2 separate regions of the Homo sapiens genome follow, and region 2 is linked to region 1. A link means that fine-mapping ties the variant in region 1 to the expression of a gene that starts in the linked region. Tissue or cell type: whole blood. Region 1 holds a variant in brackets; the other region holds the start of a gene. All regions are shown on one strand. Distances are between the middles of the regions.

Region 1 (2,684 bases):
CTAGCTTCTAACCTCCAAACTGTACTTGGTTATTCCTGGGTGTAGGCCAAGATAACTTTAGGAGGAATTTAGTTTATAGCTTAACCTTAAAGATGATAATAGCCTTTCCCAAAACTAAACCCCCTTTGTAAAACTAATGAAAGTCCACAAGGTTATGGTTATGAGAGAGGCCTGAATTCTGCTAAGATGTAAGCATAAACAATAACCAGCCATTGCTCCATAGGTCACAAGATTTGTAACCTCCCCAATTATTGCTGTAGATAACATCACTATTGTATTGTATTGTAGATCCTAAGATTGGTTTTTGAGATGTCTTTTCAGACTTTGGCATTTCTTTTTTTGTTTGTTTGTTTTTTTGTTTGTTTTTTGAGATGGGGTCTCACTCCGTTGACTAGGCTGGAGTGCAGTGGCACGATCTCAGCTCACTGCAACCTCCGCATCCTGGGTTCAAGCAATTCTCCTGCCTCAGCCTCCCAGGTAGCTGGGATTACAGTTGCCTGCCACCACGCCCGGCTAATTTTTGTATTTTTAGTAAAGACTAGGTTTCACCATGTTGGCCAGTCTAGTCTTGAACTCCTGACTTCAAGTAATCCGCCTGCCTCGGCCTCCCAAAGTGCTGGAATTACAGGCATGAACCACTGCACCCAGCAGACTTTTGCATTTCTTATCCACCCTAACCATGGGGTCCATGGCCCTCACCCAAAGGCCACACCCATATCACCTTATCTTCAGCCAATCAACATTCCCCACTCCCTAGCCCCCAACACCAAACTATCCTTGAAAAACCCTAACTCTGAGCCTTTGAGGAGACTGATTTGAGTAATAACTCCACCTACTGCAATGCTGAAGTCTCAGTGAGTTGATTTTATCTGTGCACCCATTGGGCAGTTACAATAATTTGCTAGAATGGTTCACAAACCTAGGGAAAGCTTATTTACTATTCCTGATTTATTACAAAAGAAATTTTAAAGGATATATATATAAACAGATGGAAGAGATGTGAGAAATAAAATAAAATCCTAATCCCTCCAACCAACAAAATGGACCCCCTCTTGGCCAAGAGTACCCCCAAGAAACCTTGAAAATTGAGTTTC[T/C]AGCGATGACTCGATGGGAGATAGGACACATCTCATTATACCCCCTTCCTTGCTAGCTGCCGTTAGGCTTTCTTCCCTAAGGGTTAAACAGAAACCAACCCTTTCAAAAGACTCTTTGCACCACTGATTTCAACCAACCATCTGACACTGCTCCTCCCTTTTTGGATTTTGACAAAGCAACTGACCAGCCTTCCTTCCTGATAAGACACCACTGACAACGGAGTGGTTCTGGCCAGTCTATGGAGAATGCACAATAAGGGTTTTCATGTCCCGTGCTTCACCTTTTGACATAAGAGGGCTGAAAACTCCATCCTCAGATTATGCTAATGAGGCCATTTTTTTGAACAGGGATCCCATGAAGGGACATGAAGCTCAATTGTGCATGCACACATTTCTCCTTTCATAAATATTCATGTCTCCTCCTATAACTTATTAAATATGTATATTCAGCCACCCTGCTCAGCATAAATTCATGTTCCTTTTGCCACTCCCTCAAAATGTCTGTTTCCAGCTTCTGCCCAGAGGCTACATTTCTCAGCCTGCCAGAATAGCCACCCTCAGGCTGCAACCCTTTATAAAGAATAAAGCTCTCCTTTACAAATTTATGAACCTCATCATTCTTCAGTTGACAGATGCATGGGACAAGGTATAGAGGTGGGGTATGCAGCTTCTATGTCCTCTCTGGGTTACCACTCTCCTAGCACCTCCATGTGTTCATCAACCTGAAAGCTCTCCAAAACCCTGCCACATAGGGTTCTCATGGAGGTCCATCACATTGCCATAGCATAATTAATGAAATCATTGGCCGTTGGTGATTGAACTCAATCTCTAGCCCCTCTCCCTTCTTTGCAGGTCAGAGGATGAGCTGAAGGGTCCAACTTGTTCAAGCCTCAATCACCTGGTTAGTTCCCTTGACAAACAGCTCCTCATTCTAGGGCTTTCCAAAAGTCTTTTCCCTTACAAAAGACGCTCCTTTTCCTCTATAAGAAATTTCCAAAGGTTTTAAGAGCTATGTGCCAGAAACTGGGGATGAAGACCAAATATATATATCTTATTATATCACAATATTATAACTGGGTATTTTATTTGGTGGCCCTACTTCCACCATATTCTACAGGCAAGTCATCCAGGGATAAGGGAGTGACATCACCTTTTGATGGGATGAGTGGCTTGCTTGTACAGGGAAGAGAGGAGTTAATGGTGTTCAACTTTGCAGACTACCACCCTATAGCAAGAGCCTTGAAAATGTATACTTCACTGTTAAACCAGTGATTCTATTTCTAGTGATTTACTTAAGCACATGAGTAAATATGAGCCAAAGATTTAGCTACATGGATGTTCATTGTAGAAGTGATTATAATAGTGAAAAATAGAAAACAACCTAGATATACAAAGAGACAAATTTATTTACTAAATTATAGTATATCCCTAAACCAATGCTATGTAACTGTTAAAAGTTATGTAGAGAGTATCCATTTCTTTATTCTTTTTTTTTTTTTTTTTTTTTTTTTTCTGAGACAGAGTTTCACTCTGTCACCTAGGCTAGACTGCAGTGGCGTGATCTCAGCTCATTGCAGCCTCCACCTCCCG
Region 2 (2,684 bases), 53 kb before region 1:
TCCTCAAGAGCAATGCCGGAAAACTTGGCAGATCTCAGTCTAAAAGGAGGTGAAGAACTCAGCACCCCTAAAAACAACCATGAAATTATGCTATGAAAACGTGAATAACTCAAGGTAAGATTCATCACATCGTTTTTTACTCTTCATCTTCAAACTCAAAGCAAATCAATGAAAAGGACCAAAATGTGTTAAACATACTTGCCACCTTTCTCAGTACTTTCATGGTATCCACTGCACGCTTCAGATTATACTTAGAGAGATACGCGATACGGGGCGGGCAGGGAGGGGGAGTAATATACAACATACGGCACATTTAAGAACAGTTAACTACCAGAAAATAGCTTCTCTGAGTTTCACAAATACGGAACTCCATTCACCTCTCCATCCAGAGGAATCCATCCCTGGGGACAGCGTCTAGACACTGTTTCTAAAAGTGTCTTTTCTGTCCCTGATCTGCTGGAGTGGAATTTGGTTATCGGAGAGTAAGTGATTTGCTGTGGGTCTTGAAGGCACCTTTCCAATCTCTTCAAGTGGTAAAAGAAAAGGATTCTCCATGCTCCTCCACCCACCTCTATCAAAACATCCAGTCATTTTAAAAGAAACAGCTGGGAAAAGAAATCATCCTTCTGTTTTGGAGCGGGGAAGACAGTTAAGGCAGCGACGCCTCCCCGGGGAGCCGAGGCGAGGGCGCACGCACGGCTTCCTCAATTGCCAGCGGTGGGCGCAGGGCTCCGGCGCCCCTGTCAGCTCCCGCTCCCTCCGCCCCTAGAGACCTTCACGGTTTCGGTCAAGGCGCTCCTGCTGCCACCGAGGGCAGGAGGTGGTGCTGCTGGTGGGCACTCCGTCCCGGTTTGGGCTCCGGTGATGTCGGGGCCCTTCCCTGCCTGCCTACCTGGCCTTCCTGCCCCGCGATGGCGTCGTGGCGGCACCATGAGCGGACCGGTCAGGCCCCGCAGCCGCCCAGCGCCACGGCCGCGGCCTCGGACTCACAGAGCTGTCACCGCGCCTGACATCGCGCCGCACTGGAGGCCCAGCTCCTGAAGACGCGGTGCCCCTCAGGGAGAGGCTCCCGACACCACCCAACTCCACTCGGCCCAGGAGGGCGTGGAGCGGGTGAGGGGAAGGGACGGCACAGTCAGCTATGGCCGCGGAGGCCCGGAGATCTGCTCTGGCCCCGGCCCCGCCCCCGGCTTGCCCTCCGCGCGGCCCCGCCCCCAGTCCCCAGCCCGGAAGCGGTGGCGCGCGGGTGACGTCATAGGGGCGCGACGGCGGACTGCGCGCGGTCGCGTATGCAGCGAGGCTTGGCGGAGCTAGGGGAAGTAATGCGAGGCTCTGGTCGCCGAGCGAGGGCTCGCGGCGGCGAGGCGAAAGAAGAGAGAAGATAGGAAGAAGGGAAGTAGGGCGAGGTGGAGGAAGAAGAGGAAAGCGAGCGTGGGTGTCTGGGGCAGAGCAAAGGACGAGGGAGTGGCTAAACCTCCGCCCGCCTTAGAACGAAAGCTGGCCGTTCCGTTTCACAAACTGCGAACCTGAAACTTCGGATATCCCTTTCTCGATGACAGCCGAAACGCAAAGTGGCTTAGAGTACTTTTGATTCTTGAAACCTTTTGTATATAAACAAGATCTCAGCTCTAGGAGTTACAACCTACATCCTAGGCCAAGCTACTTCAACTTCTCTGGTCCTCGGTTTCCTTGTCTACGATAATGATAGTACCTGCCACATTGGTTTTTTGTGTGTATGCTAGGATTGCATGAGTTTACATATGTGAAGGACGTAGATCAATTCATGGCACATAATAAGAACCTCACAGACGTCAGCAATTTTTTGTTCGTTCGTTTGTTTTGAGACAGGGTCTTTCTCTGCCACCCAGGCTGCAGTGCAGTGGCACAATCACAGCTCACTGCAACCTCTGCTTCCCGGGCTCAAGCGATTCTCCAGCCTCAGCTTCCAGTGTAGCCGGGACTACAGGCGCAAGCCACCAATGCCCGGCTAATTTTTATATTTTTTAGTAGAGACAGGGTTTCGCCATGTTGGCCAGGCTGGTCTCGTACTCCTAGTCTTAAGTGATCCGCCCGCCTCGACCTCCCGAAGTGCTGGAATTACAGGCATGAGCCCTGCCAAATGTTGGCAGTTATTAAACTGTATAGATTTGTTCCTTAAATATTTTGACTATTCCATGAGAAAGGTTTGTCCAGCATCTTGATTTCTATCTACAAAACAAAAACAAGACTAAAGGGTTCAGTAATTTAACATCTTGGTCAGATGGCGTGAAGAAATTAAATTTTCTTACTCCTATAGTCGCGATGTAGTGTACCTCTTACCTTTTAAGTCTCGTTTCAGTGAAGTTGAATGCATATTCTAGCAACTAATAAAACAATACCAATGAACATTTTTTAATTGATCGAATCAGTTTCAAACTATCAGCATCAAACACCTCTAATAAGTCATTCAGAAACCTATTGTGCAGAGTAAAAAAAAAAACCAACCAGGCCGGTCGCGGTGGCTCATGCCTGTAATCCCAGCACTTTGGGAGGCCGAGGCAGGTGGATCACGAGGTCAGGAGATGGAGACCATCCTGGCTAACACGGTGAAACCCCGTCTCTATTAAAAAAATGCAAAAAATTAGGCGGGGGTGGTGGCGGGCGCCTGTAGTCCCAGCTACTCGGGAGGCTGAGGCAGGAGAATG

The links. PIP is the estimated chance that this variant, and not a neighbour inherited with it, causes the effect.
Region 2: SLC35F5 starts here. The variant in region 1 is fine-mapped to the expression of SLC35F5 in whole blood (TOPMed, PIP above 0.99). The same link has a PIP of 0.9 or more in atrial appendage.

Annotation. Positions count from the first base shown.
Region 1 is chr2:113,808,016-113,810,699 of GRCh38, forward strand. All of the region lies in intron 2 of LOC105373570 (a long non-coding RNA gene), which reads right to left. Among named protein-coding and RNA genes, the nearest start is that of SLC35F5, 53 kb to the left of the region's middle. The variant T/C (reference allele first, on the strand shown) is at 1,095.
Region 2 is chr2:113,755,478-113,758,161 of GRCh38, forward strand. It overlaps SLC35F5 (solute carrier family 35 member F5), which reads right to left and starts at 1,165. Exons shown (of 16, transcript NM_025181.5): 1 at 893-1,165; 2 at 1-67. The coding sequence starts at 932. RefSeq lists a silencer at 1,091-1,320 and enhancers at 1,531-1,710, 1,891-1,940.